Linked DNA regions of Homo sapiens. The protein of the gene in region 4 purifies or fractionates together with the protein of the main gene of each other region. This does not show direct contact. Each region holds a gene or a part of one and is shown on either strand. Other genes may lie near its edges. The genes, in order: DNAJC17, ARMC1, MMUT, RALB, HCN1, XPO5 and SLC25A3.

Region 1 (4,285 bases), on a different chromosome or scaffold from region 4:
TGGCGTGGGTAAAGTAATGAGAGCAGCCTCCTGCCAGCCTGCTGAGGGGCTGTGGACACACCAGACAGGCCCTGGGCCACTGCAGAGAAGGGAAGAACCAGGTTGCTAGATCTTGCCCCCAAAGCAATCTGTTCCACCAAGGTGGGGACAGGTGTGGCCAGGAGCCCCACAGCCCTAGCCTTTGTATCCAGGCCAAAAGACACCAGGGCCATGGTTGCAGGTTGGGGGTTACACACAAGCTGGAAGGTCTACGCTTCACCCAGGCAGGGCACCCAGACTCTGGGCAGGCACCACCCCGTGTCAGCAGGGTAGCCAGAGTTCCTTCTTTTTTTTTTTTTTTTTTTGAGATGAAGTCTTGCTCTGTTGCCCAGGCTAGAGTGCAATGGCACGATCTCGGCTCACTGCAACCTCTGCCTCCCTGGTTCAAGCGATTCTCCTGCCTCAGCCTCCTGAGTAGCTGGGATTACAGGTGCGCACCATCATGCCCAGCTGATTTTTGTGTTTTTGTAGAGACGGGATTTCACTATGTTGGTCAGGCTAGTCTTCAACTCCTGACCTCAGGTGATCCGCCCCCCTCGGCCTCCCAAAGTGCTGGGATTAACGGCATGAGCCACTGCGCCCAGCCTGCCAGGGTTACTTCAAGAGGAGATATTGCCTCTTGACAGTCGGTCCCTTTCTGGGGCAGCCAGAGACACATCCAGAAAACTGAAGTGCTGGGAAGGAAGTGGCTGTCCTAGTCACCTGCCCCTTCTCTGCAGCACTGGGTCGTCTAAGCTCCAAATGCTTCACACACCACAACCAAGCAACCTGAGGGCCAGGAAGATCCCTTTGGTGAGAAGGAGAGTCCCAACAGGAGGCCAGATATGGAGAGAAAGCAAGGTCTAAGAATACAGTGTGGGTGGGGCCTCTCTGGCCCTCAGAGAGGAAAAGGGTTCAACGTGAAATCACAGCCCCTCTTGCCTGGGTTGGTGGACCTGCCAAGCTCACTCTAGGCCCCAAGATCTGAATTTGGAAGGAAAGAGCCTGAGAGGAGCCCAGGTAGGAAGAGCTCCGAGACCTGAGCGCCCAGCCGGGCGAGGCCTGACTCCTCACCTTTGACAGTCCTGAGTGGCTGCGGCCCACGGCATCCTGGGGCTGTCCCTCCAACCAGGAAATCTTCAGAGGGTTATCCACCAGGCCAACTTCATTCTGGACAGCCAGCTCCTGCCAAACACAGCATCTAGTCCTGTCCCATCCGTTGAGTCAGCTATAAAGAGGCTCTCTCTACCCCCACAGAGAGAACGGAACCAGCGTTCTAGCCCTCTAAGCAGAGATGCCAACCTCAGCAGCCTTCAAGTGATGGGTGTTAACGCTTTGGCCTTTCCTGCGGGAGAGGGGTTGGGGGAGCTTTCTGATGTGGGGAGGCGAGGAGCACAAAGGGTGGGAAGGCAGTGCTGGGGCTCACAGCCCCAAGGGGTGCAGGTGGAGGGTGTGAAGGCACCAGCAGGGAGCAGAGTCAAGTCTGTGCTCTCCTTTCTCCCCAGAGCACCCCCCATCCATCCCTTCACACACGGTGCCTCTATTTCCAGGAGTCAGGGGCCCCTGGGAAGAGCCTTGGCTCTAAGCTGGCCTGGAGATTCCCTAGGAGTGCAGACCACCTAACTCAGAGGGCCCACAGAATTGGGTCCCTGCCCTAGAATGACAGGGCCACGAGGGGCCCCCAAGCCTCATGCAGCACTCACCGCTGCCTTGACGGTTGCAAACTCCACCACAGCAGTGCCTGGCTTCTTACTGGAAAGCACCAGGTTGAGAACCTCACCATACTGTGGGGACAAAGGGGTCCTAATAAGCATGACTTGGCCTTCAGGATGGCCCAGGTCATGCCAGAGACAAGCCTGGGCTACCTTGAGGCCCATGGGGCATTTTCAGTTGGGAGATAACTTCTTGCCCCACCTACTTATCTTAGTGAAGTGAGATCAGAGATAGGAAAGAAAGAAATTTTTTTCTAGGAACACAGAGCAGCAAAGGAATGATGAGCAAAGCCCTGGTGACTTAGACTGACACATTTCATTGCATAGCGTCCTTGCTAGTTGAACGTGGTGAAAAGGACGGGGCTTTCGTGCCAGATACGCACCTCGTCCCTCCCAACCCACTCAACCAAGCTCTTTGCTTCTAAGGGTAAGGGTTAGACCGAGGTAGCAAAGGACAGCGGGCTGGAAGGGGGCACATGGCCACACAAGTGAAAGCAAGGCTGTAGCCTGGGGAGAAGTCTCTAAGACGTCCCATGGTCTATGAGACAGAAAAAAAAAGCAAGTAGATATGTTAAGGGAAGTTCAGGCATTGAGAGCAGAGACCTAGGGTGTGGACTGAGACGTGGACTGAGATGATAGGAAAGAGTGGACGTCAACAGGGCCGACCTTCTGCAAAAGCCGTAGGAGGACGTCTTTGGAGTAGCCACCTTTTGACTCATCCTCCTTCTTGCACTTCCATTTTAGCTGAAAAGAGAGCCTCATGAAACACTGATTCTTGGCTGAACAGTACCTCACCCCACGACTGAGCTTGACAGTCTGAGCAGACATCCTCCCACCCTCCAAGCCTCCAAGGCTCCTGCAATCTGGGGAGTGCCACCAGAAACATTTTCCCCTTGGGAACTTGAAGGCAGGATGGCCTGCTCACCCCAGGGACGCTTCCCGCCCAGAAGACCCTCTCCTGAGAGGGCTTCTAGAGAATCCTCTGCCCTGTGATCAGGGCTAAAAGCAGCCTTTCGTGGCAAGCTCTGATCTCCGGGCGGCTGGAGCATGGAGGGAGGTGGTAATGGTGCGGGCTCCACGCAGATCCAGCAGCCCCACCAGAAACCCTCGAGCCACAGGAAGCATCTATTCCTGCTGAGGGGAGGCGGTGTGAGTGTGAGGTGGCCCACAGATCCTGCCCAGGCTCACCTTTAGTTTGGGGGTTCCTTGGCCTTCAGTATTTTCTGCCTTTCCTAGAAATATTGGGAAAAGAAGAAAAGTAGAATATGAGGGAGTCAGAGATTCTCCCAAAGGAAATGCAGCCCAGAGCAAGAAGGGTCTGGAAAGGGTCACTCCTGACCAAGGGCAATGCCTGCCCAGCTCTGGTGAGGGCCTGGTGGGGAAAGCAGATGCCCATCCCCAGAGAAGCTGCCACCCCAGGGGTGGTCTACCCAGCTGCCTCCTGAAGGCCACTTGTCAGCACTCTCTGAATGGAGAGCTAGGAACACTTTCTAGGGACAGGAGGCAGAGAGACAGACCATGAGGTTCTACGGGCACAAAGTGTCCCAGGGCCCCTCCCCGTGGTGATCTGTCCCAAAACAAGGCCACCTCTGCTTGGGACAAAGCCAAATGTGGCCAGGAGATCTCAGGCAGAGTAAAAAGCAAATAGGCCCCAGAGAACTGGGAGGAAGACGGGATAAGTGGCATGTGTCAGAGTAAGGTACCATAGGGTGACCCCAGGGTTCCAGCAGGTAGAAGCCTCCACAGCAGCTCCACCGAACAGCCAGTGTGGCCGCTCTGAGCAATCTGGAGCTACCTTGGAGGGGAGATAGGCGGGGTGATAGACCTGCACCTCTCAACCTCTGGTCACGCTCCTGGCGTATCTGCTCCCGGATGAGCCTCTGCTGTTCCTCCAGCTGCCGGGAACCCTCTTCTCTCAGGCGTTCGATCTGCAGAGCAGGGGGTGGGGGTGACAATTCTGTGCAGGTCCAATTCCAGGCTGGCTCACCTTGTAAAAAGTCCTTGGGAGCTTCCACCTGCAAGCTAGGGCTCAGCAACCTGTGGGTGGGACAAATCACCCAGCTCCCACTGAAGGTGCAAAGAGCATGCCCTCTCTAGCCACGGCGACCACCAGGTCCATCCTCCCCCACCTCCTCCTCCTGCAGGTGGCCTTCTGGCCAGTGTGCCTGAGTGCTCACCTCTTGCTCTAGTGTCCTGGTGCTCCGGCTCTCCTCTTCCTCCTCACTCTCCTGGGCCTGGGCCTGCCGCTCCCGGGCCTCCAGGTCTAGACACAAGGGTTGAATGACCAGACTGCTGGTCTGTTCAGTTTCCATGTGGCCTCGGCCCACCCCAGCTCTGGCTGCCTCCCCAAAGTCTCAATCACGACGAGATCATACAGTAACTCTGCCCCCTCCCTCCATGCCCACGCCCCCGAGTCAATTTCCATTGAGAAAAATCACAGCACAGAAGTATGGGGTCTAGCAGAGTGGCCAGGGGTCTGGAAGAGTTAAAAACAGCTCACACTGACCAAGCTGGTTCTCTCTAGTGAACAGGGTGTGGGTGGTGCTTATGTCAGC
Region 2 (3,500 bases), on a different chromosome or scaffold from region 4:
TTTCCCACTGATTATTCCAGCTTTGTCTCACCTTAACTCCAAAGTCCAGTTCCTAAACTGATTTTCTTTCTGCTTCAAACCTCAGAAGACTATTCTCATCACTTTAGCCATCACTAACATTACTAACTCCAATATGACTTTCTTATTTGTCTGTCAGACATATCCACTTGACCATCAAGTGGTCATCTCAATACAAGATCCAAAGTGAAAATGGAAAAAGTAATTGCATTTTCTCCTCATAGCTCCCTCCACCTCTGGCCCACACACCAAATCACACTCTCTACATTTTCTGATTTCTGTATTGAGACCAAGTTTTGATTTATATTTCTGAGGGGTCAATCTGCAACTGACCCACGTGCCAAATCTGTAGACTATATCCAGTTTTCAAACTTATTTCCACATCCTTCAAAACAACTGCTCACACCATTGCTCATCTCCCTACTTCTGCATTTCAACACTACTCAGGGAGACGTGGGACACGTCAGTCTGTGGCACAGCACAGGCCCACAGTGGGCTCATCTAGTGCACTGTGTCTGGACCCTGCTCTGCAGGGGCCTGCATTTGGTGAAGCCCCTTAGAGGACTGGTGCCAAATAGCACCATGTTTATCTCTTCCACATATTCAACACCAGGTAAACTTGAAAGTGAAGTAAAGCTCACACAATATATATAAGTTAGGATACTATTAATCTGATCCCTTATTTTAAATGTGAGGAAAGTGAAAAGTTGAAAAACAACTTGCCTGATTTACCACAGGTAGAGTCTGGTACTAAATGCCAACCACATGCAACAGTGAGAAACGAGATTCATAAGTCTAATTTATCTTTATTTTAACATAAATTAACACACTTTTTTAGCAAGCTTATTGCCTGCCTCCTCCAACTATGCTAGCTCCAAGAGAGCAAAAAGTTTTGCTTTTTGGTCATCGCTGTATCCCTGGTATCTAAAATAATGCCTAACATTAGGTGCTCCTTTTTATTGTAAAAATTAGTACATTCTACCATGTGAACTTTCAGATCAGGAAATAAAGTTCCAAAATCATCAGACTGATTGGCATTATTTTAAGTCCACAAATTTAGGAAGAACTAACATCCTTACAAACTTTCAGAAACAGGCATTTCATTCCATTTATTCCAGTCTTCTTATAATACTGAAGACCTTTAATTTTTTTTATTAAGTCTTGTATTTTCTTATTAAGAATACCCTTGCTACTATCACACTGGTCATTAAGTTTAAAAAAACAAAAAGAAAAAAAGAAAAAATACCCCTGCACTCTTCCTAGCTGTTTGTTTTGTTTGGGAGAGTAAAACTACTTTTCTCCTTTTAAGAAGTAACTGATTTCCATATATTTAATAATGTCACTGGATTTTTAAAATATTTTTAAGAAATTTCAGATCATTCTCCTGGATTTTCTATATTTACAGCTATATCAATAGCAAATTATCAAATTATTGACTTACTGATATTATACTAAAATATTTCACTATGTTAAATCATATTTACAACTCCAGGATAAAACTAGATTGTTTCTAGGAAATTATAATATTGTGATTAAAAGTTCGATTCTGGGCCAGGCGCGGTGGCTCACACTTGTAATCCTAGCACTTTGTGAGGCCGAGGCAGGTGGATCACCTGAGGTCAGGAGTTCAAGACCAGCCTGGCCAACATGGCAAAACCCTGTCTCTACTAAAAATACAAAAAAATTAGCGGGGCGTGGTGGTGGGTGCCTGTAATCCCAGCTACTTGGGAGGCTGAGGCACGAGAATTACTTGAACCCAGGGGGTGGAGGTTGCAGTGAGCTGAGATCACGCCACCTCACTCCAGCCTGGGCAAAAGAGCAACTCTGTCTCGAAAAAGAGTTCAATTCTGAAGTCACACTACCTAGTCCAAAAAATGTTGACTAAGCTAAAGTTACATAGGTAGAGTAAACAGTTAAGTTATTTGACCATTCTAAACTCAACTTCCCCTTCTATTATAACCTAGCACTTTGGGAGGGCAAGGCAGGCAGATCACTTGAGATCAGGAGTTCAAAACCAGACTGGCCAATATAGTGAAACCCCGTCTCTATAAAAATACAAAAAAATTGGCCGGGCATGGTGGTGGGCATCTTTAATCCCAGCTACTTGGGAGGCTGAGGCAGGAGAATTGCTTGAACCTGGGAGGTGGACGTTGCAGTGAGCCAAGATCGTGTCACACTGATCTCCAGCCTGGGCGACAGAGTGAGACTCTGTCTCAAAAAAAATAAAGAAAGAAAGAAGATATACATCTCTCTGTGCTGTCAGAAACAAATGAGAGAATCGATGAAATAAACTTATCACTAGTACCAGGCTATGTCACCAAAAAAAGTTAACATGATAGTACAGTACTAGAATTAACTTGCTAATATTTCATTTTGGACTTGGTAATCATGTTTTTACTATATATTGGCCTATATATTTGTTTGTTTGGTTTCTGCTCTTTTTTTTTTTTTTTTTTGAGACGGAATCTCGCTATGTTGACTAGGCTGGTCTTGAACTCTTGGGCTCTAGCAATCTTCCTGCCTTAGCCTCCCATATAGCTGAGATTACAGGCATGTGCCACCACACCTGGCTAGCCTATATTTTTGTGTGTGCTTTGCTGGGTTTTATTACTTGATTTGTGCTAGCTTTAAAAAGAAACTATATTATTCTTATTCACTAAAATTAAACACATGGTATTGGAGATATTTTATATATCTTAAGATCTTCCAGTGAATCAATTTACCTTTATCAGAACTTGCTTTCTAGAAATTGCCTTGTGACCCCACTTCCAGTAAGATAGCTGTGGACTGATTTGGGTCTGACAATATGCATATGGAAGGCTTATTTACTAAACCCCATATCCTGAGCCTAAGCACCTAAACACAACTAGAAAAAGCTGTGGGCCAGGCGCCATGGCTCAACGCCTGTAATCCCAACACTTTGGGAGGCCAAGGCGGGTGGATCACAAGGTCAGGAGTTCGAGACCAGCCTGGCCAATATGGTGAAACCCCGTCTCTACTAAAAACACAAAAATTAGATGGGCATGGTGGCGGGCACCTGTAGTCCCAGCTACAGGGGAGGCTGAGGCAGGAGAATCATTTGAACCTGGGAGGCAAAGGTTGCAGTAAGCCGAGATCACGACACTGCACTCCAGCCTGGGGGACAGAGCAAGACTCTGTCTCAAAAAAAAAAAAAAAAAAAGAAAAGAAAAAGAAAAAAGCTGTGAATAATCTAATATAACCTACCTGGCATTGCTAAAGAGGTAAGTGGTAATCTACCAACTGCTACCCCTAAATATGTAAAGTTATATAACTTCTCTCTGTGCAAGGTAACTTCAGGGGAACTTCCAGCTGCAGTCCAGATGGATTAACAGGGACCAGATTTAGCCTCTAGAATTAAACAACTAAAAATATAGACAAAATTAAAATTTTTTTGTGTGTGTGACGGGATCTCGCCCTGTCGCCCAGGCTGGAGTGCAATGGCGCAATCTCAGCTCACTGCA
Region 3 (3,884 bases), on a different chromosome or scaffold from region 4:
AAAGCAATTACAACAAAAGCAAAAATTGACAAATGAGATATAATTAAACTAAAAAGCATCTGCACTGAAAAGGATACTATCAACACAGTAAACAGATAACCTACAGAATGGGAGAAAACTTTTGCAAACTGTGAATCTGACAAAGGTCTAATACCTGCATCTATAAAAAACTTAAACAAATTTACAAAAAAACATTAAAAAGCAGGCAAAAGACATGAACAGACACTTTCCAAAAAAGACATACATGTGGCCAACAATCGTATTTTTAAAAAGCTCCAAATCACTGATTGTTAGAGAAATGCAAATAAAAACCCCAATGAGACACCATTTCACACCAGTCAGAATGGCTATTATTAAAAAGTCAAAAAATAACAGATGCTAGCAAGGTTGTGGAGAAAATGGAACGTTTATACAGTGTTGGTGAGAGTGTAAATTAGTTCAACCATTGTAGACGACAGTGTGGTGATTCCGCACAGACCTCAAAACAGAAATACCTCCCAACCCAGCAATCCCATTACCGTACATATACCCAAATGAACAGAAATCTTTCTATTATAAAAACATGCTTGCAGCTGGGCGTGGTGGTTCATGCCTGTAATTCTAGCACTTTGGGAGGCAGAGGCGGGTGGATCACTTGAGGTCATGAGTTCGAGACCAGCCTGGCCAACATGGTGAAACCCATCTCTACTAAAAATACAAAAATTGGCCAGGTATGGTGGCACGTGCCTGTAGTACCAGATACTCATATGGCTGAGGCAGAAGACTCACTTGAACCCAGGAGGTGGAGGTTGTAGTGAGCCAAGATCATACCACTGCACTCCAGCATGGATGAAAGAGCGAGACTCTGTTTCAAAAAAAAAAAAAAAAATACACATTCACATGTATGTTCATTGTAGCACTATTCACCACAGCAAAGACATGGAATCAACCTAAATGCCCATCAGTGATAGACTGGATAAAGAAAATGTGATACACACACACTAAAGAATACTATGCAGCCAGAAAAAAAGAATGAGATCGTGTCCTTTGCAGGAACATGGATGAAGCTGGAAGCCATTACCCTTAGCAAACTAATACAGGAACAGAAAACCAAATACCACATGTTCTTTCTTATAATTGGGAGCTAAATTATGAGAACACATGGACACAAACAAGGCAAAGAGGGAAACAACACACACTGGGGCCTATCAGAGGGTAGAGGAGCAGGAGGAGGGAGGTCAGAAAAACAACTAATGGGTACTAGGCTTAACAACACAAGTTTACCTATATAACAAATCTACACATGTACCCCTGAACTTAAAATAAAAGTTAAAAAAACAAACAAAAAATAATATTTTTTTGAATACTAAAAGAATGTTTCCTCAAATGTTGGGGGGTCTTCCTAATGTAATGCCTACAGATATCAGAAACTTTTAAATTTAATATTCATCGTTACATTATTTCCCTCAGAGAACTTTGTTCTGATTATTTACATTTTTCATCAAATTTTCTGAAAACAATAACTCAATCCCTAATTTTTAGTGTTTGCTGATTTTTATGTTGTGAATATTCCAACCATAGCCAATTTCACCCTATTAACATGACATTACTAAATGCAAAGCAGAAAAAAAGACACACAATAGCCACACAATTATACAGTATCACTACCATATAGAAAAAATAGATGGAAATAACCTAAAAAGCAGATAATAAAATATATAAATATAGGGAGTGATAAGTTTTTAGTACTTATCACTTTTGGTTTTAGGCAATAGTAAAAGGTCTACTCTCTAGAATCTACAAGGAACTTAAACAAATGAGACACCATTTCACACCATGAAAAACAACTGGCTTTTGAAATTCTTAAAAATTTAATTCCTGGAGGCCTCATTATTCCTTAGTGGTTCTAGCAATCCTGCCTACATATCTGTAAGTAGTCCCTCCATTAAATTTTCTTCAAAATCCTAGCTGAGATTTGGTTTCTCTTGAGACCCTGACATTGCCCTAGTTAAGGTCTTCGTTGTTTCTCATTGTTTTTCTTCACCGTACTGCTTGAATCTAGTTGCAGCTCTCCTCCATCCACTTCAGAGAGTGATTTTACTAGAAAGTGAATGGCACTGTGCTTCTGAAACAAACATAAGTTTTAAGGATCAACAAATATAAGTTTCTGGGTTTCTTGTAACAAGTGAGGTGCCCTCTTTGTCCATATTTTAGTTATAGTAATTTTATACTATAGTTATAGTATAGTATAAAGTTATAGTAATTTAGTTATAGTAATTTTCATACTATGTACGAAATAGTAATAATTTACATAGTAAATTTCATACGATGTAATTACAAGTAAGTAAATCTCTCTTTGTTAGGAGATTGTAACCTCGAGGACAAAATTGTATCCTACTCAACTCAGAGCCTAGCATCTGGTAGATGATCAATACATATGTAGTAGAGAAGGCTTTTCATATAAAATTATTACAATGTACTTTCTAGTCAAATTTTTTTGTATTATCATTCTATGGAAAATGTCAGTGTAATTTATCTCCTGCAAACTATTTTCCTGTCTAAGTCTAATATTCTGTGACTAAGTAACATATTAGTAGAGAGTTAAAAAAAGACAACAAAAATAAACGAAAATAACCTTACTTATGAATTGAGTTTATATTGCTATTTGATTTCTTTTTCAAAACACTTTTCACCAATCCCATGTGGGCTATCTTTCCCACAAAATATTAGTCAAATCTCAATAAAGAGTACAATAAGATCTTTGAAAGTAATCTTCATAGTTCCAGAGGCATAATCAGTTTTAGTTCTGAACTGACACTTTTAAAAGTCTGAAAGATTAATTATATTTTATTTTTATTTCTATCATAATTAATTGGACTATATGTGTTATGGTTAATACTCCATGTCAACTTGGTTGAAGGATACAAAGTATTGACCCTGAGTGTGTCTGTGAGGGTGTTGTCAAAGGAGATTAACATTTGAATCAGTGGGCTAGGAAAGGGCTAGACCCACCCTTAATCTGGGTGGGCACCATCTAATCAGCTGCCAGGCGTGGCTAGAATATAAGCAGGCAAAAAAATGTGAATAGAGAGACTGATCTAACCTCCAAGCCTACATCTTTCTCCCGTGGTGGATGCTTCCTGCCCTTGAACATTGGACTCCAAATACTTCAGTTTGGGAACTCGGACTGGCTCTCCTTGCTCCTCAGCCTGCAGAAGACCTATTGTGGGACCTTGTGATCATGTGAGTTAACACTTAATAAACTCCCCCTTACATATATATATATAAAGGCTGAGGGAGAGAAGGCAGGGTGGCAGGAGTGGAGACCATGGGCATTTGAGCTACTTTCTCATGTAACTTACTTGTGCCTTCAGGACCTGCTCAAGCTGGACCACATATATACCACTTCCATTTGATGATGGAATGCTGCTGTGCAAGACCCACTTTATAGTTAGATGGGTCAGAAAGCACCCAGTTCATGATAGGCAGTTCTGGTCGCATGGTGACTTGATGACCCATAGTCAAACATTCAGTTTCCACCAAAGTCCAGTAACAGGCCAAGAGCTGTCTCTCAAAAGGAGAGTAGTTATCTGCAGAAGATGGCAGGCCCTTCCTCCAAAATCTTAGAGGCCTCTGCTGTGACTCACCTATGGGGGCCTGCCAAAGGCTCCAAACATCATTGCTATCTGCCACTGACACCTCAAGCACCATTGGATCTGCTGGGTCATATGGCCCAAGTGGCAGAGTAGCTTGCACAGCAGCCTGGACCTGTTGCAGAGCCTTCTCCTATTCTGGACCCCACTCAAAACTGGCAGTCTTTTGGGTCACTCGATAAATAGGCCAGAGTAACACAGAGTAACACATTCCAAATGAGGAATGTGTTGCTTCCAAAAATCCAAATAGGC
Region 4 (4,285 bases):
TGTGATCTCACCGCTGCACTCCAGCCTGGGCGACAGTGAGAACTTACCTCAAAATAAATAAATAAATATCACTCTAATACTCTAGAAAGTCTTGAGAAAGAAACTGGCCTCAGAGCCAAATATATGGTAAAGTAGGAAAAGCTGCCAGTCCATAAGAAAGAGATAAGGCAAGATACTTTTTGCTCAGACGCAGTCCCCCTTGTCCTGAGGAATGAAGGGGCCTGGCTTTGAGTCCTCCTTCAGCCACTGACTCACTAGAGGATTAGGCAAGTCACTCCCACTCACTGACAATATCTGCCCTGCCTACGTCTCAGGGCAGTGGAGAGGGACACGTGGAAAACGCGTACCAAAGGCATACTCCACCTGGAAACAAGCACAGGCAGATTTTCATCAACAGAAGCCCTTCACACCCTTCTTTCTTCATCACCCAAAACACAGCGTAATTTGCCTTAGAGGCATAACCAATGGGCATTTCAGGATGTCCCTGTCCTAAATCTCCCCAGCAACTCCCGAAACGGCTCTAACAGAAACAGTCTTGCCTTCTCTTCCCTGCTGTGTCAGTATGTGAAGGCTGAGAGGATCACACAAGGAAGCTGCCACCTCCCCAGCCACGTTTGGGAACTACGGTGCTAGAACAGGACCACCCTCCTCTTAAGGGGAGCACACTGCTGAACATCTGTCCTGAACAGTCACCACCAGAAGTGCAGGTGTCCCCACTCTTTCCTATGACTAGGGCTCTCAACCCAACAGAACTGCATCCATCTCCTGAAATGGCTAACCCACCTGGTCCCTGCAACCTCAGGCACACCAGCAAACCCTTCGAGAGCCTCCACCTCTTCTAAGAATGTTCCTCTACCTTCTAGCTCTGAGACCTGGGTGTGCCCTGGGGACACCACATCAAGCAGATGCTATTTCTCCTCCCATGCCATGTGCTTCAGGGCCAGACAGACCAGATATGTGTCCTTCCTCCCTCCCCAATGTCACCTGCACTTCAGTACCTCTGTTAGCCCCATCCGTCTTACAAAAGCCCCCATACCTTTGAGGCCTGGCCTTTCCAGCCATAATAGCCTGTCCTTCACCTTGTTACTATCAGCTACAGACTTCCTGGTCACTTCCCTCATTTATTGAGGACATCTGCTTCTGGTCTGCAGACTTCCATTCTACCCAACTCCTGTCGTCCTCCCCAATGACATCTGTGCATGTGGATGTCCCAGCCAAGCTCGGCCCCTCTCAAGTCCTTGATCCTCTCTTCTCCGAAAACCCTTTCTTTCCTTCTATCTAACATTATCATGGTCATTACCTGAACTTCACCGTCACCAGAAACAGTTATCTCCTCTAACCCTCTAGCCTCAGCCTCCATCCTTCTTGCTCACTTGTTCAAATACCACCCCCACACACAATTCTCTGCCCTCTTGACACCTGCAAGCATTGGCCTCCAGCACTCTCTCTCTGCATAACAAGACCCTCTGGGCTGCACTGCCTCCCTTCACCAGCTTAGATCCCAAAGCCTGACATGAGAAAAGCCCTCTTGCAGATACCTCATCTCCCTGCTCCCTTCCCCTCCATCTCACTCACTGTTTTCAGCACCTGCACCCAGCATGCAAATGCTGCTGTCGAGGGAAAGAAACTCAAGAAAGCAGCCTCCCAGCACTCCACTCTCAATGCACTTATGATCACAAACCACGAATGGGCATTCCCCCACACTTCCTAGTAATCTCGCTGTGACTCTCCCCTGTGCCCTCCCTCTGCTTACTCTTGACAGATAACCTAACCTCATTTGTCCCAGAGAACACCAAGCCATCAAACCCTAACTCCCTCAGAGCTCCTTCAACAAATCTACAAACCTTCCACGCCCTTCTTCTCCTTGTCTCCAGCCTCATGGAGTACACATTCCTGCTCTTAGCAAAGGCCAAGCCCTCCACCACCACCATGCCCAAGAACTTAATTCCTACCACTACCCTTCTTCCTGCAGCATCAATCAGTCTTTACTTTGCTACAGGATCATCCCCAACAGCATGTAGACACGTTCTATTGAATCTTCACCCTAAAGATTCACACATGCGTGTGTGCCTTTGACCCCCATATATCCTTCTAGCTAATGACACAATTCCTCTATAGGAATTATCTGTGCTAATGCTTCTCAAACTTTAATGCATAGTTTACCTGGGAATCTTGTGAAAACGCATATTCTGATTCAGTAGGTCTGGAGTGGAGCCCAAGATTTGGCACCACTAACCTAGTCTCTAATCATGTTCCTGACCCACAGACCCCACACTGTGTAGCAAAAGCCTTTGTTTCCTTCCCTCACTATTTACGGAAACCATTCCAATCCAACTTCCTCCCAATATAAGCTCACAGAAATTTGTGAGATCAAGATCACCCACAAACTCCACGTAGCTAGCTCCAATAAAAACTCTTCTTTCTTCCTTCCCATGCCCTCCTCCTCTTTAAAATGAGCAAGTAGCAAGAGTGACAAAACGCTGCCTGGAAAGGGAAGGCCCGCAGCAGGCCTGTATAGGGCCCCTTCCAGCGTCCCCCTCCTGAGGCCATCCCTCCTGGCTTCCACAGCCCACATTCTCCCACAGGCTGAGTGCTTCCCGGGTGGCTCTCTGGGCCCTTTCTCGGCGCCACTTGCCAGGCATTCCTCCTCCCCATCTAGATGTCAGCACTTCTCGGAGCTCAGTCTTGCTCCCTCCTCATCTGCACCACATACAGCCCAGTGGCTGTACAGACAACTTACGAACCTGAGGATGCAGCCCTGACCGCTCTCCTGGCCCCAGGCTCACAGCCTTGCTGCTGCCCCTGCCCACTGGGCTGCCACAAGATTCTCAACTTATTCCCAAAATAGAATTCTTGATTCTTCCCTCTTAAAATCTGCTCCTTCACTATCCCCCATTTATTAGCTACTGAAGTCACTACTAGTGAGAGGTGACAGCATGCTGGAAATCCTCAGAGCCCTCGCTTGCTCTAGGCACCTCCCCTGCCTGGGCTCCCACTTTGGTGGCATTTGAGGAGCCCTTCAGTCCCCCCACTGCACTGCGGGAACCCCTTTCTGGGCTGGCCAAGGCCGGAGCCCACTCCCTCGGCTTGCAGGGAGGTGTGGAGGGAGAGGCACGAGCAGGAACCGGGGCTGTGTGCGGCACTTGCGGGCCAGCTGGAGTTCCGGGTGGGCGTGGGCTTGGTGGGCCCCGCACTCGGAGCAGCCAGCCAGCCCTGCTGGCCCCGGGCAATGAGGGACTTAGCAGCCAGGCCAGTGGCTGCGGAGGGTGTACTGAGTCCCCCAGCAGTGCTGGCCCACCGGCACTGCGCTCGATTTCTCGCCGGGCCTTGGCTGCCTTCCCACGGGGCAGGGCTTGGGACCTGCAGCCCACCATGCCTGAGCCTCCCACCCACTCCATGGGCTCCTGTGCGGCCCGAGCCTCCCCGACGAGCGCCACCCCCTGCTCCACGGCGCCCAGTCCCATCGACCACCCAAGGGCTGAGGAATGCAAGTGCATGGCGCAGGACTGGCAGGCAGCTCCACCTGCAGCCCCGGTGCGGGATCCACTAGGTGAAGCCAGCTGGGCTCCTGAGTCTGGTGGGGACGTGGAGAGTCTTTATATCTAGCTCGTGGATTGTAAATACACCAATCAGCACCCTGTGTTTAGCTCAAGGTTTGTGAGTGCACCAATCGACACTCTGTATCTAGCTGCTCTGGTGAGGACGTGGAGAGTCTTTACGTCTAGCTCAGGGATTGTAAATACACCAATCAGCACCCTGTGTTTAGCTCAAGGTTTGTGAATGCACCAATTGACACTCTGTATCTAGCTGCTCTGGTGGGGCCCTGGAGAACCTGTGTGTGGAAACTCTGTATCTAACTAATCTGATGGGGACGTGGAGAACCTTTGTATCTAGCTCAGGGATTGTAAACGCACCAATCAGCGCCCTGACAAAACAGGCCATTCGGCTCTACCAATCAGCAGGATGTGGGTGGGGCCAGATAAGAGAATAAAAGCAGGCTGCCCGAGCCAGCATTGGCAACTCGCTGGGGTCCCTTTCTACGCTGTGGAAGCTTTGTTCTTTCACTCTTTGCAATAAATCTTGCTACTGCTCACTCTTTGGGTCCACGCTGCTTTTATGAGCTGTAACACTCACCGCGAAGATCTGCAGCTTCACTCCCGAGCCCAGCAAGACCACGAGCCCACCGGGAGGAACGAACAACTCCAGACGCGCTACCTTAAGAGCTGTAACACTCACCGCGAAGGTCTGCAGCTTCACTCCTGAGCCAGCGAGACCACGAACCCAC
Region 5 (3,252 bases), on a different chromosome or scaffold from region 4:
GGGAAGGTGTGAGAGGTCTGTCCCACCTAAGTTATGGCCCAGATAGCCTGGGGTGACTTAGAAAATTCTGCTCATTGCTCTTAGAATGTTTAATGGGGGCCAAGAACTGGAATAAATTCTTTGTAAAATTTAGCTCATTTAATCTTCACAACCACCCTGTAAAGTAGAAACTATTCCAATCTCCATTTTCCGGTCATGAAAGCAGATGTAATATTGAGAGGTGAAGCCAGCTGGACTTCCTGGGTCGAGTGGGGACTTGGAGAACTTTTCTGTCTTACAAGAGGATTGTAAAATGCACCAATCAGCACTCTGTAGCTAGGATTGTAAAACGCACCAATCAGCGTTCTGTAGCTAAGATTGTAAAACGCACCAATCAGCATTCTGCAGCTAGCAAGAGGTTTGTAAAATGCACCAATTAGCACTCTGTAGCTAGGAATGTAAAACACACCAATCAGTGCTCTGTAGTTAGCAAGAGGATTGTAAAATGCACCAAACTGCGCTCTGTAAAATGCACCAATCAGTGCTCTGTAAAATGCACCAATCAGCAGGAGTCTAAAAGTAGCCAATCGCAGGGAGGATTGAAAAAAGGCACTCTGATAGGACAAAAATGGAACATGGGAGGGGACAAATAAGGGAATAAAAGCTGGCCACCCCCAAGCCAGCAGAGGCATCCCACTGGGGTTTGCTTCCACCTGTGGAAGCTTTGTTTTCACTCTTACTGCTCCTTACTCTTTGGGTCTGTGCCATTTTTAAGAGTTGTAACACCGCAAAGGTCCGTGGCTCCATTCTTGAAGTCAGTGAGACCATGAACCCACTGGAAGGAACCAACTCCGGACACAATATGACTATATAATTCTACCATGGGTAGAATAAGCAAGTAGAGCAAGACATAAGCAGTAGAGCCAGTTTTTGTAGTCAGGCTTTCTAAACACTGCAGGTGTATAGATATAGCTGATGAAGAGAAGCTCTTTGCAAAATATTGACCACATTCATTTATTTTTATAATGTCAATGTATTATTGATAGCATTAAAAATGTTACAGAAGGCAATGGACACATTGTACTGATGTGATATTAAGAAACATTGCTAGCTATGGCACCAAAATTTATGTGACATAAGGAAATTATAATACCTAACACATATTAGTTTTCTCTTCCCTGGTTCTAACTAGCAAGTGCCAGGAGGCAGGCTGGGTTAGACAGCGTGACCAAGAGTAAACTTTGGATGGTCCAGGATAAAATTATAACATAGGTGGTTTGTCGTTGCTTGTGTTTATTTAATGTTCTCTCGCTTTCCTTGTCTAGCCAAGATCCCATGCTATGTTGACTTGTCATCTCCAGAAATGTCTTCACACTTGGAAGTTCCCTTAAAAAGCCCTTAAAATTTACCTCCTCTAGGACTTACTAGTTCCAATTTTTTCAATATTAATACACATATGAATCATCTGGGGATCTTGCCCAAAAGCGGACTTCTGTAGGTACAGGGTAAGGCCAAGGACTCTGCACTTCTTGTAATTATACTTCTGGGTGATACTGACGCTGCAGTTCCATGCACCACACTTTCCACAGTGAGGCACGCAAGAACATTTAGAACTGCACATTTTAAACAGAATTGTAATATGTTAGGTTGGTAATAGATGTTAGAAGAGTTAGGCAAACAAGATTTAATTTTGAATGCTTGGAAACTAAGACCTTGAACAAATATGAGAAAGAAATGAGAATACATTTGGAAAACTCTTTTTGAATCTTTCAAATTTCTTTGGGTTATGTTCTTTCTTCCTTCAAAAGTAAATCTTTCCTTTCTCAGGAGTTTTCCTCACAAATTTAACAGGAAATAAAAACCTTTCAAGAAAGTCTCTTTGCCTCTACACATCTGAATATTCTCTGTAGAAAACGATGCAACCTGTTTTTTTGCAAAATTCCGTTATTTAAAAAAAAAAGTCTGAATAACTCTACGTTACCTGAATTCAATTATATAATCTATTGGAAACATAAAGTGGTCCTCTTTTGAAGAATTATTATATTTACTAATTTATTCAGATTTCTTCAATTGAATGAATCAATAGTATTCTCTGCTCATATGGTATTACTGAAACAACTACATAGAAAAAAATAGCAGGGCCGGGTGCGGTGGCTCAGGCCTGTAATCCTAGCACTTCTGGAGGGTGAGGCGGGCGGATCACTTGAGGTTAGGGGTTCGAGACCGGCCTGGCCAACATGGTAAAACCCTGTCTCTACTAAAAATTACAAAAATTTAGCTAGCCATGGTGGCGGGCACCTGTAATCCCAGCTACTCTGGAGGCTGATGCAGGAGAATTGCTTAAACCTGGGAGGCTGATGTTGCAGTGGGCCAAGATCCTGCCATTGCACTCCCACCTGGGTGACAGAGCCAGACTCCATCTTAAAAAAAAAAAAAAAAAAAGATGTTTCCCTTTGGGAGTAAATGGCCATTGATGTTACATTAGAAATATAATAGCTCCAAAGAATGTTCACCTTTGCCACTCTTTGGAGCGTGTGTGATATCTCCAATAGAAATTAAAGAACTGGCTTCACTTTTTTGTTTGTTTGGGTTTTTCTTGAGAAAGGGTTTTGCTCTGTCCCCCAAGCTGGAGTGCAGTGGAACGAACAGGGCTCACTGCAGCCTTGACCTCCTAAGTTCAAGCGATCCTCCTGCCTTAACTTTCTGAGTAACTAGGACTACAGGAATACACCACCTATAGTCGGGTTTTCTAAACACTGCAGGTATGTAAGTATATACTGGTCAATTAAAAAAATTTTTTTTCCTTGTAGAGACCAGGTCTTGACATGCTGCCCTGGTTGGTCTCCAATTCCTGGCCTCAAGCATTCCTCCCACTTTGGCCTCCCAAAGTGCTAGGATTACAGGCATGAGCCACCACGCCTGGCCTGAGAACTTGCTTTATTTTAGCCAAAATTATTTTATCACTTCTTTCCCTTCTCACAGGTTCTAGCTCTTATCTTCTTGTACCCCTTCCCTGCCGCAATATATTATCTTACGCAAAGCAAGTAAACTTTCAGTTTCCTATTCCCATTACTCTATTTAGCAAACCTAGGACCTTCCTTAGGACCCAGCATCCTCACAAGGCAGGGTGGGGTTGTAAATAGCCCCCAGTTTTTGCTGTGTCATAAATTATTTTATTCCTTGTTACATTAGCAAAACAGACATTTCAATGTGAATCCTCCCCGTTGATAAGCTTAAATTAAGAATATAAAGTACAACACTGTAAAACCTTTG
Region 6 (4,285 bases), on a different chromosome or scaffold from region 4:
ATGCTAGCACTTTGGGAGACTGAAGCAGGCTCAGCTGTCCGAGACCAGCCTGGGCAACATGGCAAAACCCCATCTCTATTAATAAAAACATCACGATAGAAATAAGCCTCTTCTTGACTAAATGTTTAACCCTCTCAGTACAAGTCCTACTTCTTTTCAGAGATCTCTTTCCTCCTTTAGAAATCAAAAGAAAATATTATTTATTTATTTATTTATTTTGAGATGGAAGTCTCACTCTGTCGCCCAGGCTGGAGTGCAGTGGCGTGATCTTAGCTCACTGCAATCTCCGCCTCCCGGGTTCAAGCGATTCTCCTGCCTCAGCCTCTCGAGTAGCTGGGATTACAGGCATGTGCCACCATGCCCAGCTAATTTTTGTATTTTTAGTAGAGACAGGGTTTCATCATGTTGGCCAGGCTGGTCTGAAACTCCTGACCTCAAGTGATTGACCCACCTTGGCCTCCCAAAGTGCTGGGATTACAGGTGTGAGCCACCACACCCCGCCAAAATATTGTCTATTTCCACAGACATGTCCACAATGACAACTTTATCAGACACTCCAGCCCTCCAATTTGTCAACATTAACTTAAAATCTTTGGTTCTCAGGCTTCAGGTCTTGGGTGTCTATTCCCAGGAGAGTTTCACTGCGACATGAATAATTTGGTTTGCCCCGTTGAGACTGCTTTTACTCCTTGGAGAAGGGGCCAAAAAGTACTGAAACAGAGCTCTAACAATGTAATTTAAACATCCTGTGAGAGGCCAGGTGTGGTGGCTCACTCCTGGAGTCCCAGCACTTTGGGAGGCCGAGGTGGACTGATCACTTGCGGCCAGGAGTTCGAGACCAGCCTGGCTAACATGGCGAAGCCCTGTCTCTACTAAAAATACAAAAATTAGCCAGGAGTGGTGGTGCACACCTGTAGTCCCAGCTACTTGGGTGGCTGAGGCAGAAGAATCGCTTAAGCCTGGGAGGCGGAGGTTGCAGTGAGCCAAGATTGCACCACTGCACTCCCAGCCTGGGTGACAAAGTGAGACTCTGTCTCAAAAAAACAAACAAACAAAAAAAAAACCAATCCTGTGAGATACAAAAAGCACTCTTTGGCCAATAACTGAATTATATAAAAAAACCTATCTTTTCATTTAGAGACCATCCCTGAGTCATCAAATATCTATATCTAGTAACTGATAAGCCTATACTGGCCTACTTCCACTTGAATATATTAACTCATGTGATCTAAAACAGTGATTCTGAATGTTTAATGTGTATATAAACCACTGGGCATCTAGTTAAAATGCAGATTCTGATTTAGTATGTCTGGGGTGGGGCCTTGATTCTGCCTTTGAAATAAGCTCTCAGGTGATGCTAATGCTACTGGTCTTAGGACTCAGCTTTGAGAACCAAGGATCTAGCAAACTCAGATGAAAAATTTATAATTCCTTTGTTTAGCATGTTCAGCCAGCGGTTGTTTGGTTCATCTGAGCTCAGACTCAGTATTGATAAATTCAGATTAGCTCATATGAATACCACCTAGACAAGCATCATTATAGAAGGCAACTGCCCTGCTCCCAATGAGCAATTCCTTTACTAAAAAATTTAGACCAAATAAAACTTACAAGTAAAAATAGGGATGAAGTATAAAGAAATGGAAGAACAACAAAGAGGAGGCTCAAAATGGGAAAAGCCCTTTTGGGATTATCCCCTTGGGTTCACATGGAAATTAAGATTTATGCAAGTGAGAGCTGATGTTATTTTTTTTAAAACTGAGACACCCTCTAGAAAGAAATAAGACTTAAATCAATCCCTCATTAATACCACTAAGATATGAAGACATGTAAACAGACTAAACTTTTGAAATTTTTAAGGTAAAGTAGAAAACAACAGAGAAAAGCCATTATTCTGACTCACCTTATAAGCGCAAGCAAATTGTCAAGAAGTTTCAGAATCTGCTCTGTGCAGGGGTTACGGAAGATTGGATTTCCACTGGATGTATAACCCACCACAAATCCCCCAGCTTTGGCCTCTTCTAGGTCAGTGGGCCAGCAAGTTCGTTTCACCACACCCAGAATGCTGTATACACAAAAGCTCATCTATAGAAAAATAAGAATGACAGATAAATATTAAAAGGAAAAAAAAAAAAAGACCAAATACTGTTAGATATATTCAAGGTTCTGGCAAAAGTGACACAGAGGCCAGAGAGAATGAAATAATCCTCTGCTCCCCGGCAATCCCCCATCCCTTCCTTTAAGGTGAAGTCCAAGAGGGATCCTCTCACTGCCATTTTCAGGGCCAGTGGTAGGCTCTGGAAACTTCCCTTGCAGTAAGCTGTCTTTCTAGGAGCTGCAGTGACCCACCCACAGGACCCTGATGAGAAGGTGGCTTAGATACGATCCAAAACAAAGTGTTTAAAATGCCATCACTTCATCTTCTTTGAGTTGACCCTTATTGGGCCTTGACAGCTAGTGTCCTAATCCCCCCTCACGGTACTCTGAATCAACCTACTACTTGCCAGGTTAATTAATGGGACTTGTGCCATAATGGAGCCAGGAACAATGCTTATTTAAATAGCAAAGCACTGAAAAATCTCAGGTTTGCAAGTTAAGCCATCACTTAAGACTTTACATGCCAGAGAGCAATGGCAGGGAGGACTCACCCTGCTGACCAAGTTCTGACCTACTTCCTCATTACACCTTCAGTCTTCAGAGCTATTTAGAGATCCTTAAAGCCAAAATAATGACTTCATAGAAAAGACCATCTGCTCTGCTGTGGGAACTAACTCAAGAATTCAAGACTAAAGAAGAAAAGAAAGGAGAAGCTTAGGGAAGTGGAGACTCCCACGTTTCTCACCAGTATAGAAAAAACAAATCTATGAGAAACTTGACAAAAGACAACACCCTACTCCTACCCATGGCCAATGCCACTTCCCATTCCCAGGAAAGTCTTACTCGTGCACGGTTTAAGCCACACGGATCCTCCAGGCCTGGGTCACAGCTCTTCTGATCTGTACCCACATACGCAATGAAAGCATCAACATCTGACAGCACTCTGAAGGTTGGAGGGGGAAAAACAAGTTACATCATGACTTTAAACAAGGACAGTTTCTTCCACAGGAGTTAACAGGCTATCATTATTTGGCCCTTAAGAGCAGTTTTTATAGTGAGAGGAGTATAATCATACTAATTGTCAGTTGTCATTTGAAGGTTTAAATTTCCCTTCCCACTCCCAAATATTATTAGTAACAATTTAAGAATTAAACAAGAATATAATCTTCAAAATATAAAGAAAATAATTTCTCTACTGTGTGAGCACAGATAAGTGTCTGTGTGGTTGTATGGCCCTTCCTAGCTGTTCTCATTTTTCTAAATGTGCTGGTGCTGCAATGCAGACACCACAGGAGTCTCACTCTGTGCCCTCCCCACCCACAATCTAATTGAACCAGAGATTAAATTACAAAAGACTGCTTTTAGAGAACTTCAGATATCATGGATAATGCCATCACACTTCAATATCCTTAACCCCTACCCCACCCTGGGCCTAGCTCTTAAACCAAAATGGGTGCTTGAGTATAGTAAGAGTCAGGGCAAGGGATCTCCTTTACCTGTGCATGTCTTGAGAAAGCCAGATGCTGGCCACTGGTGCCATCAGCTCCTCTAGGAACACCTTCTGACGCTCGTAGTTCTTAAATTGGTTGCTAATGAGAACCAGGGCTTCCATGAGGGCACACTTCTCCATTTGTGTCAGGAGTAGCTCATTGGAGAGGAGTTGCTTCACATGGTTATAAAGCATGTCAAAATTGGGCTACAGATCAAAAAGAAAAAAAGCCAGAGGTGGTAAAGGTCTGATTTTCAAGGAGAGGTGGCTTACTCAAGGAAGAAAGAAGAAAACCAAAGCAGTCCCAGGAAAGTCAGGCCTATAAGGTTATTATTTGGTAATTCTGTTATATGTCTTTATTTTGCCTAAATAAGCAAGGCAATTTAGGCGGAAGATAGCTCTTGTCTTGAGTATTTGGATAACTGCACTTTCCCATACTACAACTGTGAAAAGATCAGCTTGTTTTATATATATATATAGATATATATGTATATCTATATATATATGGAGATAACTGCTGTGCATTCAGAGAAGAAATTTCTGGATAATTTGTAATCTGGAGTAATGTTAAATTTCTTATAACCCCATGCCCCAAAAAGGGTTGTGATTTGCATCTGCTTTTCTCAAGATCAGGCACATCATTTGGCAGTAGTAATTAAGATCATCACATAGTAAAGAGTTGTAGAATTATAGGGGTAAACT
Region 7 (4,285 bases), on a different chromosome or scaffold from region 4:
CACAAATAAAACCTATTATAACTCTTAGGAAATAAAACTTGAATCCTGATTGGCAGAACTGCCTCAGTAAGGGCTGGCTGAACTGCATACCCAAAATGTTTTAGATCTACGGTCCACTTTCACGTTGGCTGGACTAATGCGTTTCTACTGCTCCTCTTACACGTTGACTGACTTTCCTCTCAGGAAGAGGTAGAGACTATGTTCCTTTTTTCCTCAATCTGGGACTTGGTTTCTGAGACATCACTGTTGTAACCAAGAGCATGGTAAAAGTGATGTTATGTGACATTGAAGGATAAGTCCTAAAAAGCCAACTCTGCCAAGCTCTCCTGGAGCCCCAAAATACCACCTAAGTCCAGCTGCCCTGAAGCCACCATGCTAGAGATTTTCGGGAAAGACTATACCACTAATAGTGAAAAGCACAAAGAGCATCCTTTCAGCTCAGAAGTGAAAAGCTTCATGAGACTCAGAACCAGAAGAGTCTGATACTCCCGAGTTCTTCACCCACAGAAAAGCTTATCATACACCATTGATCTTTGGATGCTTTGCTAACATAGCAAGAAATAATATACAGTTGATACTGCTAAGCACCACAGCCACCACTTGGTTGGGTTCAGAAGACATCCTACTTTACCTTTTTAAAGTTTGGTCCAAATTTGTACCTACAACTTTTCCTTTTTTCCTGCAGCACAGGTAAAATGTTGGAACCTTTAACAAGTTCAGGCAATGATGATATAAAGAAGTTAACATGCAACTAGCTGCACTGGCTTCTAAATTGAGTTCACTGACCTTACCATGAGTTTGTAGTAACATTTCTCTCCAATCTCTGAAAAAGTTTTTCTCTCCAGGCCATCTGTACGCTTTACGTAGGGACTGTTAACCAACCCACGTATTACACATAAGGACTCTAGGTAAAATCTAGTGTTTGAAAAACAGCATGTTATATATTACACTAGGTTTTTCGTTTTTTTTCCAGTGGTGGGCTGTCATTACAAAAGATTGAACTTTTATACACTTCCTAATCAAACTTAAGGGGAATCTAAACACAAAAACTAATTCACTTTCTAGGAGCTCTTTAAAAATGGGCTTAAACCTACAATCCAATCTCGTATCTAAGTATGATGGAATGCTTTTTCCCCAGTGGCATTCATATAGTTCAGCTGTCAAGCAGTACCTTTCTTAAAATACCAGACTGAAAATAGTTCAATTTTCTGTAAAAAGTCAGAGCCGGGCACGGTGGCTCATGCCTATAATCCCAGCAGTTTGGGAGGCTGAGGCGGGCGGATCACCTGAGGTTGGAAGTTCGAGACCAGCCTGACCAACACAGGGAAACCCCGTCTCTACTAAAAATACAAAATTAGCTGGGCGTGGTGGCACATGCCTGAAATCCCAGCTACTTGGGAGGCTGAGGCAGAACAATCGCTTGAACCTGGGAGGCAGAGGTTGCCGTGAGGCGAGATCGCGACACTACACTCGTCTGGGCAACAAGAGTGAAACTCCGTCTCAAAAAAAAAAAAAGTCAGATCTGTGTAAAGAGAATTAGTGTACCTGAAAATTGTTTTCAGCTGTCAATCACTTTGGTCCTTTACTGTCATTCTAAGAATCAGCCTAATTTGGTTTACCTTGTCTTACAAATAAGGATTAGCAAACTCACCAACATAAAAAAGGTGTAGTACATGCTGCAAAAATGTAAGTATACACTGACATTTACTTGCCAAAATAACCACAAATGACTACACATATTTAACTATAATTAAATCAAGTTTTTAGAAATTTAAAGTCTGCTTCCCTAGAAATACAGGAACTTTGTGTGATAAAACTTGAGACATATGACAATTTCTGAATAGCAACTGGAATATTCAACCAACAATGGTCATGGTCAGTTTTGTATTTTTTCCTTAACTTATATACTTCATTCTTTCCAACTATTTTAAAGCTAAATCTTTTTTAAAAAAGTTTTAAAAATAAGTCACAGGCAAATCATGAAGAGTTGGGTTTATTTCAACAGTAAATCTGAAACTCTTGCCTTAAGCAAGAGTACTACAGTAATTATATCAGGAATAGACAATTTCCTACACTGTCAAATATATAAAAGTTCCTTTTGCACTTTCTTCAACACTGATCAACAAGCAGATTCAGTCCACATTTGCTTTGATCTAACTACTGAGTTAACCCAAGCTTCTTCTTCAGAGACTCTGGCATCTCGGGTGGAGGAGGGCGAGGAAGTCTGAAGTAGACCTTCACGGAGTCATAGATAAACCACTGTAGTGCAGTCAGGGTACCAATCATGATGATACGGGCAAACAGTCCCTTCCATACACCTGGTTCAAACAGGAAAAGCAAATGAAAAAAATGCAACATATCCAAAACTGTTGTTCTTTCTTTCAAGAAAAAAACATCATCCTACCTTTAAATCCAAGTCTCTTGAGGACCAGAGAAGCACTGCTACCTTTTTCTTTATTCAACACAGATACCACAGAATCAGCAGGGTGAGAAACAATTGCACAAAAGACTCCAGCTGAAAAAAGATAAAGGATCCCATACAGTGCCAGTTAAAAACAAAACTTCACAGAGCCAATAATCATTTTTATGATTTTAAAATAATATTTTTCTAGTTCTAAAATAAAAATCAGACTCAGGGTGACACGGGTACAGTTATCAAGCTGTCTATCCTATGTAAAACGGAACAATCTTTTAAAGTTTTTCAGATTTTATTCAACACTTTCTGTATAAAATTCTTAATAAACAACAACAAAAAAATGGTGCAACAGTAAGATCAATACATTCCCAAGCCTAATAATGACATCCCATGAAACAGCCCTTTTAGGAACTAGTTAGCAAGTATTTATGAATCCTAAAAAGCATATAAAATGTTATGGGAAGATAAAACTGCTTTATAGGCCAGGCACATCACCTGAGGTCAGGAGTTTGAGACCAGACTCATCAACATGGTGAAACCCCATCTTTACAAAAATCAGGCCAGGCGCGGTGGCTCACGCCTGTAATCCCAGCACTTTGGGAGGCCAAGGCAGGCAGATCACCTGGGGCCAGGAGTTTGAGACCAGCCTGGCCAACATAGTGAAACCGTCTCTACTAAAAATACTAAAAATTAGCCGGGCGTAGTGGCAGACGCCTGCAATCCCAGCTACTCAGGAGGCTGAGACAGGAGAATCGCTTGAACCCAGGAGGCGGAGGCTGCAGTGAGCCAAGATTGCACCACTGCACTCCAGCCTGGGCAACAAGGGTAAAACTCCATCTCAAAAAAAAACAAAAAACAAAAACAAAAATCAGCCGGGCATGGCGGTGCATGCCCGTCCCAGCTACTTGGGAGGCTGCGGCAGAAGAATCACTTGAACCCAGGAGGAGGAGGTTGCAGTGAGCTATTATCATGCCACTGCACTCCAGCCTGGGCAACAGAGCGAGACTATGCCTCAGGGAAACCAAAAAAACAAAAACACTGCTTTATAACCTTTGGAGTATTTTTCCCTCTCAAAAAACGCCAATAATGGAAATGATTATTTGTTCATAATTTCAGACAAGTGTGTTCTAAGTAATTCGTACCTATGTAACCTGCTACAAATGTTACAACCAGCTGCTCTGGCTTTGAACATTCACTGCGGGGCTTAGGAACCACAAACTTGTACAGTGCTTCAACAGTACGTTCAAAGCAGGCGAACTTCATCATGGTGTATGGTATCTGTCTCATCCAGAGAGGAGCAACCCCCTTGTAGAATCTAGGAAATCAAGAGACTTGTTTTACACAGTTGCATACACTCATCTATCAGAGACTGTCATTATTAACAGAAATGTCCGCACACGAGTCGAGTCCTGATAGTAACAAATGGCAGCATAAATGCATGTCATTTCTATCAGAACGTTAGACTAACATGCAGGTATATTTCTCTTACATGCCAATGACTCAAGCACCTTTGACTATACAACCAAAAAAGTTGCTGGATGTTTCTTTGACTACTGGAACCACAAGAAACAAGAAGTTTACAAGTGGAACTCAGTTCAAGATTCATCCACAAAGGTGGATCTAAGGAAGCATGTTGTGGTCATGGAAATTCTTAACTGTGAATAGATCACAAGGATACTAACAAGCCCTCCCTAAAAGTTAATAGTAAATGTTTAGGCCAAACATCAAGTCATTTGTAGACCGACAAATGGTCCTTACTCTAGGGAAAAAAAAAAAACTCAGTCCAGGGCTCAAACCATGTATTAACTTATCTTTACCTCTCAAGTTTATGTTCTACATACAGGTAAATAGACATTAAATGTTATAATA

The links.
Region 1: the proteins of RALB (region 4) and DNAJC17 fractionate together in Homo sapiens (co-fractionation; one large-scale study listed by BioGRID). This does not show direct contact.
Region 2: the proteins of RALB (region 4) and ARMC1 fractionate together in Homo sapiens (co-fractionation; one large-scale study listed by BioGRID). This does not show direct contact.
Region 3: the proteins of RALB (region 4) and MMUT fractionate together in Homo sapiens (co-fractionation; one large-scale study listed by BioGRID). This does not show direct contact.
Region 5: the proteins of RALB (region 4) and HCN1 purify together in Homo sapiens (co-immunoprecipitation; one large-scale study listed by IntAct). This does not show direct contact.
Region 6: the proteins of RALB (region 4) and XPO5 purify together in Homo sapiens (affinity purification with mass spectrometry; 2 studies listed by BioGRID and IntAct, with this or other methods). This does not show direct contact.
Region 7: the proteins of RALB (region 4) and SLC25A3 purify together in Homo sapiens (affinity purification with mass spectrometry; one large-scale study listed by BioGRID and IntAct). This does not show direct contact.

Annotation. Positions count from the first base shown.
Region 1 is NC_000015.10:40,772,635-40,776,919, forward strand, and holds part of DNAJC17 (dnaJ homolog subfamily C member 17), read right to left. Parts: intron 3,994-4,285; coding exon 3,908-3,993; intron 3,659-3,907; coding exon 3,562-3,658; intron 2,963-3,561; coding exon 2,919-2,962; intron 2,475-2,918; coding exon 2,397-2,474; coding exon of another isoform or gene 2,334-2,396; intron 1,803-2,333; coding exon 1,722-1,802; intron 1,204-1,721; coding exon 1,093-1,203; intron 1-1,092. UniProt on the Homo sapiens protein: May negatively affect PAX8-induced thyroglobulin/TG transcription.
Region 2 is NC_000008.11:65,606,678-65,610,177, forward strand, and holds part of ARMC1 (armadillo repeat-containing protein 1), read right to left. Parts: intron 1-3,500.
Region 3 is NC_000006.12:49,435,754-49,439,637, forward strand, and holds part of MMUT (methylmalonyl-CoA mutase, mitochondrial precursor), read right to left. Parts: intron 1-3,884. UniProt on the Homo sapiens protein: Catalyzes the reversible isomerization of methylmalonyl-CoA (MMCoA) (generated from branched-chain amino acid metabolism and degradation of dietary odd chain fatty acids and cholesterol) to succinyl-CoA (3-carboxypropionyl-CoA), a key intermediate of the tricarboxylic acid cycle.
Region 4 is NC_000002.12:120,258,954-120,263,238, reverse strand, and holds part of RALB (ras-related protein Ral-B), read right to left. Parts: intron 1-4,285. UniProt on the Homo sapiens protein: Multifunctional GTPase involved in a variety of cellular processes including gene expression, cell migration, cell proliferation, oncogenic transformation and membrane trafficking.
Region 5 is NC_000005.10:45,253,971-45,257,222, forward strand, and holds the end of HCN1 (potassium/sodium hyperpolarization-activated cyclic nucleotide-gated channel 1), read right to left. Parts: 3' UTR 978-3,252; downstream 1-977. UniProt on the Homo sapiens protein: Hyperpolarization-activated ion channel that are permeable to sodium and potassium ions. Displays lower selectivity for K(+) over Na(+) ions.
Region 6 is NC_000006.12:43,544,671-43,548,955, forward strand, and holds part of XPO5 (exportin-5), read right to left. Parts: intron 3,791-4,285; coding exon 3,591-3,790; intron 3,038-3,590; coding exon 2,938-3,037; intron 2,784-2,937; exon of another isoform or gene 2,646-2,783; intron 2,083-2,645; coding exon 1,901-2,082; intron 1-1,900. UniProt on the Homo sapiens protein: Mediates the nuclear export of proteins bearing a double-stranded RNA binding domain (dsRBD) and double-stranded RNAs (cargos). XPO5 in the nucleus binds cooperatively to the RNA and to the GTPase Ran in its active GTP-bound form.
Region 7 is NC_000012.12:98,599,401-98,603,685, reverse strand, and holds part of SLC25A3 (solute carrier family 25 member 3 isoform b precursor), read right to left. Parts: intron 4,052-4,285; exon of another isoform or gene 3,802-4,051; intron 3,732-3,801; coding exon 3,559-3,731; intron 2,516-3,558; coding exon 2,405-2,515; intron 2,319-2,404; coding exon 2,158-2,318; 3' UTR 1-2,157. UniProt on the Homo sapiens protein: Inorganic ion transporter that transports phosphate or copper ions across the mitochondrial inner membrane into the matrix compartment. Mediates proton-coupled symport of phosphate ions necessary for mitochondrial oxidative phosphorylation of ADP to ATP.